Linked DNA regions of Homo sapiens: region 2 is linked to region 1. Evidence: fine-mapped expression QTL. A gene starts in region 1. The other region holds a variant in brackets. All regions are shown on one strand. Distances are between the middles of the regions.

Region 1 (5,390 bases):
GACCCCTGTAATCCCAGCTACTCAGGAGCTGAGGCAGGAGAATCGCATTGAACCCAGGAGACAAAGGTTGCAGTGAGCCGAGATCGCAGCACTGCACTCCAGCCTGGGCAACAAGAGCGAAACTTCGTCTCAAAAAAAAAAAAAAAAGCAAATTCCATTAATTGGTCAAGGTCTATCTCCAGTGTTACAGTACTTCCCTTAAGAGGCAGCACAGTGTAATATTTAAGGGTGTGAGCTGGGGCTCTACCTGGCTCCAGACTGGTTGGTTTCAAATATGCCCTCTCCTAAATAAGAAGGCTTGAGAAAGGCACTTATCACCTCTCTGTGGTCTGTTTCCTCTTTTCTAAGATGGTGATGATGATAATTCATATTACTTCTAAGGCTATAAGTAATAAATGAGTTAGTTTATGTAAAGCTTTTAGAACAGAATACTCAAAAAATGCTATTATTATATTTACATAGCTTTTAATGATCAGTCCAATAAGGTGTAATATCTCCTTTATTTTATTCAGTTGACGAAGTACTTGGTACTGCTGAGAATAAAAAGCATTAGAATCCTGAAATAAAAGAACTGACTGCCTAGTAAACAGATCACTGACACTGTGTTTTATTTCAGCATTGTTTCTCAGAGTCTGGTATGAGGACTACTTGCAACAGAAATACCTGGTGTTACTGCTAAAATGCAGTTTCCTGGACTCCATTCTGGTCCTAATAAATCAGAATCTCTGGGGAAGGACAAGCAGGTATTCTTAAGCATACTAAAATCTGGGAACTACAGTATCAGAAGTACAAAGAGGATGCTTTGAAAAGATAGAGAAGGAAACTCTCAGGTATTTATGTTACTCTACTTTTATTAACATTATGCACCATTTATCTTATTCTCAGATTAAAATAAATTCCCTAAGGTCAGGTATGTAATTTTACTCATCTTACTTTTTTAAGTAAATTGAATGGCCTGATTGGGCATTTGTCTAAGTAGAGATACACAAATTTAAAGCATTTTACATTGTAGAAAATATTTACATGTCTATATGTTGTATACTCTATTGCATGCTACTGGTAATCTGCTACATGCTCTTCAAAGTTTCCATAGAATTTGACATTAACACTTTCTTAAACTCCTTTCTATTCGTAGCTTCTGAGACATTGTCCTATTCTAACTTTCCTGCTGCCCTATAACTACTCTCTGCATTCTGCTAGTTTTATTACTTATTAGCTGACAACCTTGGGCAAGTTACTTAATGTCTCTGAGCCTCAGGTTTTTCCATGATAAAATGGAAATAAAAGGAGGTTAATACTTCCTGTTTATGTCTGTTGTCATAATCAAATATAAAGATAGTGGATGCTTTCCAAATGTTAATTCCCTTTATGGGCTCCTTATCCCCCTTACCACTTCATGAATGTTCCTAAGGTCCTACCTTGGATCTTTAATCTCAGCACTCTCCCTTGGCAATCTCATCTAGTCTCTTAATTTCATCAATTACTTCTTGCAGGTGACTTTCAACATGTCAAAATAGAATGTTTAATTCCCCCCCCCCCGCCAATCAATTTTCTTCATCTAGGATATTTCCCAACTCCTTCAGATGAAATTTACTCACCTAACTCATCCTTCAAGATCCAGTTGCCATGTCATTTGCTTTATAAACACAGCATTCCCCTTACCTACAGCAAGAACTGATTCTCCTTAGTCTGAACTCACAGCATCTGTTTATAGCTCTCATATGGACCTTATCTTATCTGTCTTGTATGATAAATGATACTACCAGTACTCCTTGAGTACAGGGTCTGGTGTTTGTCTCCTCTCTCCTTCCAGTACGTAATACATTCCCTTGCATACTGCAAACATTAAATTACTACATTAAGTAATTTTAAAATTTATAGTGCATATTAGTATGATTTCTGAAAGCTCTAGATCAGCCAATTTCTATACATAAAATCATGTAACAATGGTAACTATAATAGAAGGCTATAAAACATAAATGAGTTTTAAGGCAGTCCCCGCAAAATGCAAATAGAGAAACCAAACAATTACATTAGAACGTGTGGCAGTGATTTTTCAATTTAGAAAAGCCTAAATATTGAATATTCTTCTTATTGCAAATCCCAAAGAATACCAAGTCCCTGAATCCTGCCTTAAATATTGCATAAAATATACAAATGTGAAGGCTGTTTCCCTGACCATGAGGAAACAATCCTAACTCAGCCTTCTTTAACTTCCAGGACTCTGCGGAATTGCTATCTCATCTGAGCCACACAGGACACAAAGCTTCAGAAGCTCCCAGCAACCTTCAGGAAAGAGGCACAGAATTCTAAGCGCAGACTGGCAAGAAGAGGAGGATGAGGAAGAGAAAGGGGCAAACCCTCTACCTGGGAGCCGGTGCACCATCACAGGAAGGAAATCCACTGCAGTGGCAGAATGACTCCTGATAAAATGGAGAAAGACTCGAAAAAACATTTTTGTATTGAGCAGATCCAGTGATTTCCAAATCCTCTCACACTGGCAGTTTTGAGTACTACTAAACAGTGAACACGCACAGAACTGCCTGGACTGTCCCTCCCTCACTGACAGGTCAAAGAGAGGACGCAGCTTAAGGGGCGGGGCTTATTTCCATGACAACCGTCCAAACACCCTAGCTATAATACGCAGCTGTTTGAAATATTAAAATTAGACCACCAATAGTGGTCTCCCCCGCCCTAAACTTTTCTTTTTCAAACCTGTTCTCACACTACAGTTAAGTCCGTTTATCCTGATGCACAGCATCAATTTTTTTATGCCACTCCTCTTCTGGAAGATTCCGACACAGAATAAAGTCCGAATTTAGACTGCCACTAGAGGACGCTACAATCTGGCAACAATTTACCTTTCATCCTTTTTCTCTGCCTTTAAATCACTTCATCCTTCCTTTTCTTTTCTATTCATTAATTTTACAGAACATTTTCTGACAATCTAGCATGAGTGAAAGTATGCCCTTAAAATGTATATGACTTTATTAACATTTTTAGCACCAATGTAGCAAATACTGTGCTACAAAGTAAGAATACCAAGAAACAAGATTGTCCCTGCTCTCCAGTTTAGACCATACACTATTCCCCTTCATGAATTATCATCCCAGCAAAGTGACTAACATACCATGATACGTTTGTTCTTCTGTGCCACTGAAGAAACTTTTCCCCTGCCTGAAATATCCCCTTTCCTTTTCAAAAATCCAATTTAAAATCTACCTCTCTGACTCCCTTACCAAAAGGTCTTCTAGTAACTCCCACAGCACTGCCACAGAGTTGCTTTTAACATTAACATATCATGTTTTCCTAGCAAAATTGTATTTCAAGAAAGAAGTGGTTAAAATTGTCAGAAGGGAGTGTCTTAATACATATAGCAGAGTACGAAGATAGTTCGGTATATATTTTGATTAGTAATCAATGAAAAATAACTTATAAATTTGTGATATTTTATTGAAATAGTAAAGAGTAACATTAGAAGTGTAAATTAAAGGGCAATAGTATTCCTGCAATAGCATTTCTCCAGTTGTGAGATAATAATAATTATTATTATTTTCTGAGACAGAGTCTCACTCTGTCACCCAGGCTGGAGTAGAGTGGCACAATCTCGGTTCACTGCAACCTCTGTGTCCCGGGTTCAAGTGATTCTCCTATCTCAGCCTCCTGAGTAGCTGGGACTACAGGTGTACGCCACCATACCCAGCTACTTTTTTTAATTTTTATTAGAGACAGGGTTTTGCCACGTTGGCCAGGCTGGTCTCGAACTCTTGACCTCAAGTGATCTGCCTGCCTCAGCCTTTCAAACTGCTGGGATTACAGGTGTGAGCCACCATGCCTGGCCAAGATAATTACTCTTGTCTACGTGGATGGTACCAAAGCCATCCAAATTTGATTTAAAAAATAAGCCTTCGACACCCAAGAATGATCAATAAAAAAATAAATAAATAAGCCTTCATGATTAGGCTTTCAGGCACCTTTATACTACAAGGTATAACAATTCTGAACAGTGCTGAACAGTAAACACATTGTGACTTAAAATCAGTTCTCCAGTCTTAATCATATCAAATGAAATGATCAAATCAATTTACTGAACCTGCAAAGGGAAGAACTAGATGTTAAACAATGGTGATACCATCAGGATATAACAAGTATATTATGAAATCTAGTCTCAAACAATCTGTTGGCCTTATTTTTCATATTAGTAATAAATGCTTAGAAAAAGAACATTTCTTAATGATGGTAGGTCGAAATCCAGATGACATGTCGTATTAACTCACAAATCTTCTTGTTGTATTTAGTTTTAAAAAATTTCCTTTTGGCCGGGCGAGTGGCTCATGCCTGTAATCTCAGCATTTTGGGAGGCTGAGGTGGGTGGGTCACCTGAGGTCAGGAGTTCGAGACCAGCCTGGCCAACATGGCAAAACCCCGTCTCTACTAAAAATACAAAAATTAGCCGGGTGTGGTGGCAGGCGCCTGTAATCCCAGCTACTCAGGAGGCCGAGGCAGGAGAATCACTTGAACCCAAGAGGCAAAGGTTGTAGTGAGCCAAGATCGCACCACTGCACTTCAGCCTAGGTAACAGAGCAAGATTCTGTCTCAAAAAAAAAAAGCAAAGGAAAGAAAGAAAAAATTGAAAAAATTTCCTTTCCTTCTTTTTTTAGAGAGAGTGTCACTCTGTCACCCAGGCTAGAGTGCAGTGATGCAATCATAGCTCACGGCAGCTTCGGATTCCTGGGCTCAAGCCATCCTCCCACTTCAGTCTCTCAAGTAGCTAGGATTAGAAATGGGAGCCACTGCAAGTGGCAAAAAAGAAAAAAATTCATTTCTAATAATTACTTTGTTGACCTCCAACCTATTCTGTGCCACCACCTCTATCAACCCAATAATTTTTTCCACTTAACCAATTTTCTTTAGCAAGTATTATTTTATTTCACTTTTGTCATCTTTTCTTATATGAGTATTTACATCATGTGGTGTTTATGCCTTAAAATAGTAATGTGATAAAATGAGATTTTATTTTAGAGTTTAGAAGGCAGCAAGGCAAATGTGCAGTCTCCCTTAGGAATAACAATTCCCTGTAGTACTATTTGCAATTTTCTGACTGCTTATATTGGAAAAATATACATGTAATAAACTGAACTGCCTATATGATTGAAAAATGGGTGCTATTTTGTTTAAAAATCTGGTTAATATAGCTATCCCATATAGTAATATATAACATAGAAAGTTTTCAGTAAAATCATAGCAGTACTTCACATTAAAGGGATAATTTTTTTAGCTAGATGAGTAGTATAGATCCTCCAGTCCAAATTCAATTTCTCAATTATAATACGATTGAAGTGACCTCCCAAAGTCATCTTGTTGTTTAAGCCAATCTATTTACTTCTGGA
Region 2 (5,390 bases), 36 kb before region 1:
CTTCGAGGGAAAGATTTGGCTGCTGAATTATGGACCTGTTTGGGAAGAAGAAAGAGATGAAAATTGTCATTCATATGGTAACAGTATGTCCCAATAATTTAGATCCAGTCAACATCATTGGCATTCCTAAATATTTAAATAAATGATAATTTCCATTCATTCATCTACTTAATATTTGTTGAGTACCTACTATAGCCCAAGCAGTTTTAGACACTGGAGATACAGTCATGAATAAAGCAAAGTCTTTGGCCTCATATAATTTATATTCTAGTGGAGGAATGATAATAAAGAAATTTAAAAATTATAAAATATTTGTGGCCAGGTGCGGTGGCTCATTCCTGTAATCCCAGCACTTTGGGAGGCCAAGGCAGGCGGATCACCTGAGGTCTAGAGTTCAAGACCAGCCTGACCAACATGGAGAAACCCTGTCTTTACTAAAAATACAAAATTAGCCGGGCATGGTGGCTCATGCCTCTAATCCCAGCTACTCGGGAGGCTGGGGCAGGAGAATCACTTGAACCTGGAAGGTGGAAGTTGCGGTGAGCCGAGATCATGCCATTGCACTCCAGCCTGGGCAACAAGAGTGAAACTCCGTCACAAAAAAAAAAAAAAAAAAAAAAAAAAAAAGTTATTTAATTAGCATCAAATAAACAAATGATTATATAACAAAGAGTAAGAAACTAGAGAGTAACAAAGGGTGCTTTCCTTCTTCAGATTTGATCAGGTAGACCTCTGTGTGGAAAAGGATCAACTTAGTAAGCCTGGGTTGCTCAAACCCTGCACTATTTCAAGAAAGACTTGTTTTCATGACTGACCTTGGGCTGGTTGCTGGGAACTGAGCTCTTGGGATGTTCTGTCTGATAAGAGTGTTCTTGCATGTGCCAGTCCTTAAGTGACTCTGCAGTAGTTTGTCCAGATAGTTTATGCTAACAATGTGATTTATAATGAACACCTCCATTCCCTTGAGGATCTGGAACATCAGTAACTGAGGGTCATCATGTAGGGGTTTTATGCTTATATGATTCATCCCCAATAAAAACCCTGGACAAGCAGGCTTGGGTGGGTTTCTTTGGCAGACAACATTTTACACATGTTGTCACTAGTTCCTGGAGGAATTAAGCATGTCCATTGTGACTCTACTGGGAAAGGACTCTTGGAAGCATGTACCTGGTTTCCTCTAGACTTCATCTCATGTGCCTTTTCCTTTTGCTTATTTTGCTTTGTATCCTTTTACTGTAATCATGAGTCATGAGTATGACTATATAGAGTCTTTTTAAAAATTTTTAATAAAGATGGTATCTCACTATGTTGCCCAGGCTTGTCTCGAACTCCTGGGCTCAAGCAGTCCTCCTGCCTTGGGCTCCCAAAGTGCTGGAATTACAGGCGTGAGCTACCTCGCCTGACCTATTTTGAGTCTTATGAATCCTCCTAATGAATTATCAAACCTAGGGGTGATCCTGGGAACTCCCAACACAGCTTCTCCATAGAGATGATGTTTAAGCAGGAGACCCAAATAAAGTAAGTGTGTTTTTCCTGACAGTAAGTGCTTTAAGCCCATTTTCCTCTCTGAAATACTGTAGGATGGAGAACAAACTGCACCATTTCCTCCCATATACCTAGTCTATATGATCTCTGTAGCATGCAGAAATATTTTTAGTGAGTAAAGATTTAGTGCTATTCTTAAGATTCATAAAGTTATTAGCTTTTTTTTTTATAAAAGGTCACCATGGCTTCAGAAGTTACCAACTTTTTAAAAATGACTTTTAATTATATTTACAATTGTTTTCTCTTGCAAAACCATAGCTAACCCAAAAGACGCTTCAAATAATGGTAGATTACATTATATGGATCAACTACCCCATTGAAAACAACTAGAAATTATGGACAAAATGTTTAAAACAGCTGCCTGAAGGCACTGGTGAGCTAAAAAGACAGTGAAGAACAAAGGGGCCAGGTTTGGGATGAAAAGGAAACCCACAGAAACCAACTGGATACTGGGGCAAGTTTTTCCCTAACTACTTAAACATATGCTCAACATCATTAGTCATTAGGAAAATGCAAATCAAAACCACAATGAGATATCACTTCACACCCATTAGGATGGTTATTATTTTTTTAAAACCCAGAAAATAACAAATGTTGGTAAAAACGTGAAGAACTGGAACTCTTGTGCATTGCTGATGGTAGAAAAATGCTGTGGCCACCGTAGAAAAATAGTTTGGTTGTTCCTCAAAAAGTTAAACACAGAATTACATGATCTAGCAATTCCACTTCTAGATATATACCTAAAAGAACTAAAAAAAGGAATTTGGATATTTGTATGCCAATGTTCATAGCAGCATTATTCATAATACTCCAAAGATGGAAACAACCCAAGTATCCATCAACAGATGAATAAACAAATATTGTGTGTGTGTGTGTGTGTGTGTGTGTGTGTGTATACAATCGAATATTATTTAACCTTAAAAGGGAATGCAATTCTGATACATGCTACAACATAGATGAACTTTGAAAACATTATGCTAAGTGAAATAAGCCAGACACAAAAGGACAAGTATTGTATGACCCCACTTACATGAAGTACCTAAAATAGGCAAATTCATAGAAACAGAAAGTAGAATAGAGGTTACCAGGGACTGGAGGTGGGGGGAACAGGGAATTATTGTTTAATGGGTACAGAGTTTCTGTTTGAGATGATGAAAATGTTCTGGAAATGGATAGTGGTGATGTTGCACAACATTGTGAATTTACTTAATGCCACTGAATTGAACACCTAAAATGGTTAAAATGGTAAATTTAATGTTATATATATATACTTTCTACACCATAAAAAAAGAAATAATACAGAGATTTCCCATATATTCGTCATCCTTTTTTGCCAGTAGGAATGTCTTGCATAATTATAATATAATATCACAACTGGGAAATTTACATTGATACAATCCACCAACCTTATTCTAGTTTAACATGCATTCGTGTGTGTGTGTGTGTGTGTGTGTGTGCGTGTATTTAGTTCTATGCTATTTTATCATGTGTAAATTCATGTACCCACCACGCCACTCAAGATACAGAACAGATCCATCACCACAAGGATCCTTCACGCTACTTTTTGATAAGGGTATAGCCATAGCAACTCACTTACCCCTTAACCTTAAAGAGAAGGGCTTTTCAATAGTTTTGAGGGCTAGAGTGACAAAAGTTTGAATTTACGATTTTCCAAGAAGAGGAAGGCCTAGTAAACCTCTAGTCCTTTGGGTTGGGACCTCATAGGTC[T/G]GTACCCTATGAATAAGAATAAACAAGAAATAGTCCAGCTCTTGCATGGACTGAATCCTGCTTCAAATTATATAAGCAAGTGAAATTCTTCTCTAGAGGAAAATAACATCATCTTGTGTCTCAAAATATTTCCACAATTTTTAAAACACAATATTCTGCAAATGAAAGGAAATAACCAGCACATGAAAAGACAAGGCAACATGATTAAAAACCAAAATAAACAACAGATAACAGAAACAGAATCACAGAAGATCCAGATACTAGTTATCAGACTTTAACTATTCTAAATATGTTTAAGGAAATTATTTTAAACTGAGAATTGTGGTAGAGAACTATAAATTGGAAAAGAGAACCAAATCAATATTCTAGAACTGTAGATCTGCCTATAAGGAAATTTTCAAGTCTGGAAGGCTTTACTGTTGAATTATTCCAAATATTTAAGAAATAATATCAATCCTATACAATATCATCCAGAAAGAAGGAAAACAGAGAACAATTCCCAACTCATTGTATGAGACTAGAAAAACCACAAAACCAAAACCTAGTAAGAACATTATAGAAAAGAAAAAAATTAAAGGGCAATTTTATTCATGAACATAGATACAAAGAATTCTAAACAAAATAGTAACAAAGCAAATCCTGCAATATATTTAAAAGCAAATAAAATGCGACCAATTGGGATTTACTTCAGGAATGGAAGGGTAGCTTAACATTCAAAAATCAATCAATGGCTGTTATGAACATTTTTTAAAGAATCAGTCAATGTACTTCACCATGTTCACAGAATAAAGGATAAACGTTATATGATTATCTCAATAGTGCAGAAAAAAAACAGTTGATAAAGTCCAACATCCATTCATGACAAAAAATCTCAGTAAACTAGGAGTAAAAGGGAACTCTCCTAATCTAATAAAATGTATCTTTTTAAAAAGTTGTCCACACAAAACGTGCTAACAAATATTTATAACAGCTTTATTCATAATTGCCAAGAATTGGAACCAACCAAGATGTCCTTCAATAAATGAATGAATACACATTTCAGCGATAAAAAGAAATGAGTTCTCAAGCCACAAAAGACACAGAGGAACCTTAAATGCATATTGCTAAGTGAAAAAAGTCAGTCTGAAAAGTCTACATACTGTATGATTCCAACTATGTGACATTCTGGAAAAGTCAAAACTACAGAAATAGTGAAAAGATCAGTGGTTTCCAGGGGCTGAGAGGAGGAAAGGGGAAGGGACGAATGGGGGAGCACAGGGAGATTTTCAGGGCAGTGAACTATTCTGTATGATATTGGTAGATACATGACATTATGCATTTTTCAAAACCGGTAGAACTGTACAACACAGACCTAACCATCATGTAAAGTATGGACTTTAGTTAGTAATAATGTAACACTCCTACATTGATTCATCAGTTGTAACAAATGTACCATTAGCAGGAGAGGGAAATATGGAAACTCTCCATACTTTCTGCTTGATTTTTCTTTAAAAGTAAAATTGCTCTAAAAAACAGTCTATTTTTTTTTGGAAGTCCTTTATTGTAAAGGTAATTCTTTTGTCTGATGACAAACAGCAGCCACAGTGATTATTCTGGATCTCCACAATGGACAAATTCAATTTCTTCTTGAGACACAAGTTTACTTCTATATTTCTGAGGTAATGTTTTCATTACTTCTGCAGTGTCTGGTACATCCACAAATCCAGTAATTTACTTCCCTTAGAATGCTGGGAAATTGCAGAATCGTGAGATGGTTGCCCTGCTGATCTCAGAGCTTCTGGTACATTGGGTTTAGGATTGTCTCTTCCAGCAGGGAAGCTTATTAATGGAGCATGTGGCTTGACTACCTGAACGACACTGCTAGCAGATGCATCTTGCTGCCCATCATGACCCCCGAGAAGGGACAGTTTCTATTATATTTTTTTAATCTACAGCCACAGCATGCTTCATGGTAAAATGCTGCAAGCTTTGCCTCTCAGATTGGGAACAAGTTAAGGATGCCATTATCATCACTTATATTCAACACTGTACTGAAGATCCAGTGAAATAAGACAAAAAAAAAAAAGCCAATATACAGCTTACATGTAGAGTTAGAAAAGGAACTATCATTACTTGCA

Direction of the effects. Alleles are on the strand shown, and positions count from the first base shown. SD is a standard deviation of normalised expression in the study named.
For the expression in left ventricle of the gene that starts at base 2,545 in region 1, G is the low allele of the variant in region 2 and T is the other (moderate effect, 0.55 SD a copy in GTEx).

The links. PIP is the estimated chance that this variant, and not a neighbour inherited with it, causes the effect.
Region 2: its variant is fine-mapped to the expression of BCO2 in left ventricle (GTEx, PIP 0.92).

Annotation. Positions count from the first base shown.
Region 1 is chr11:112,172,667-112,178,056 of GRCh38, reverse strand. BCO2 (beta-carotene oxygenase 2) reads right to left here and starts at 2,545. Exons shown (of 12, transcript NM_031938.7): 1 at 2,368-2,545. The coding sequence starts at 2,455. RefSeq lists a silencer at 18-184.
Region 2 is chr11:112,208,369-112,213,758 of GRCh38, reverse strand. BCO2 (beta-carotene oxygenase 2) reads right to left here. Exons shown (of 12, transcript NM_031938.7): 9 at 1-35. It also overlaps the pseudogene MRPS36P4. Among named protein-coding and RNA genes, the nearest start is that of PTS, 15 kb to the left of the region's middle. The variant T/G (reference allele first, on the strand shown) is at 3,274.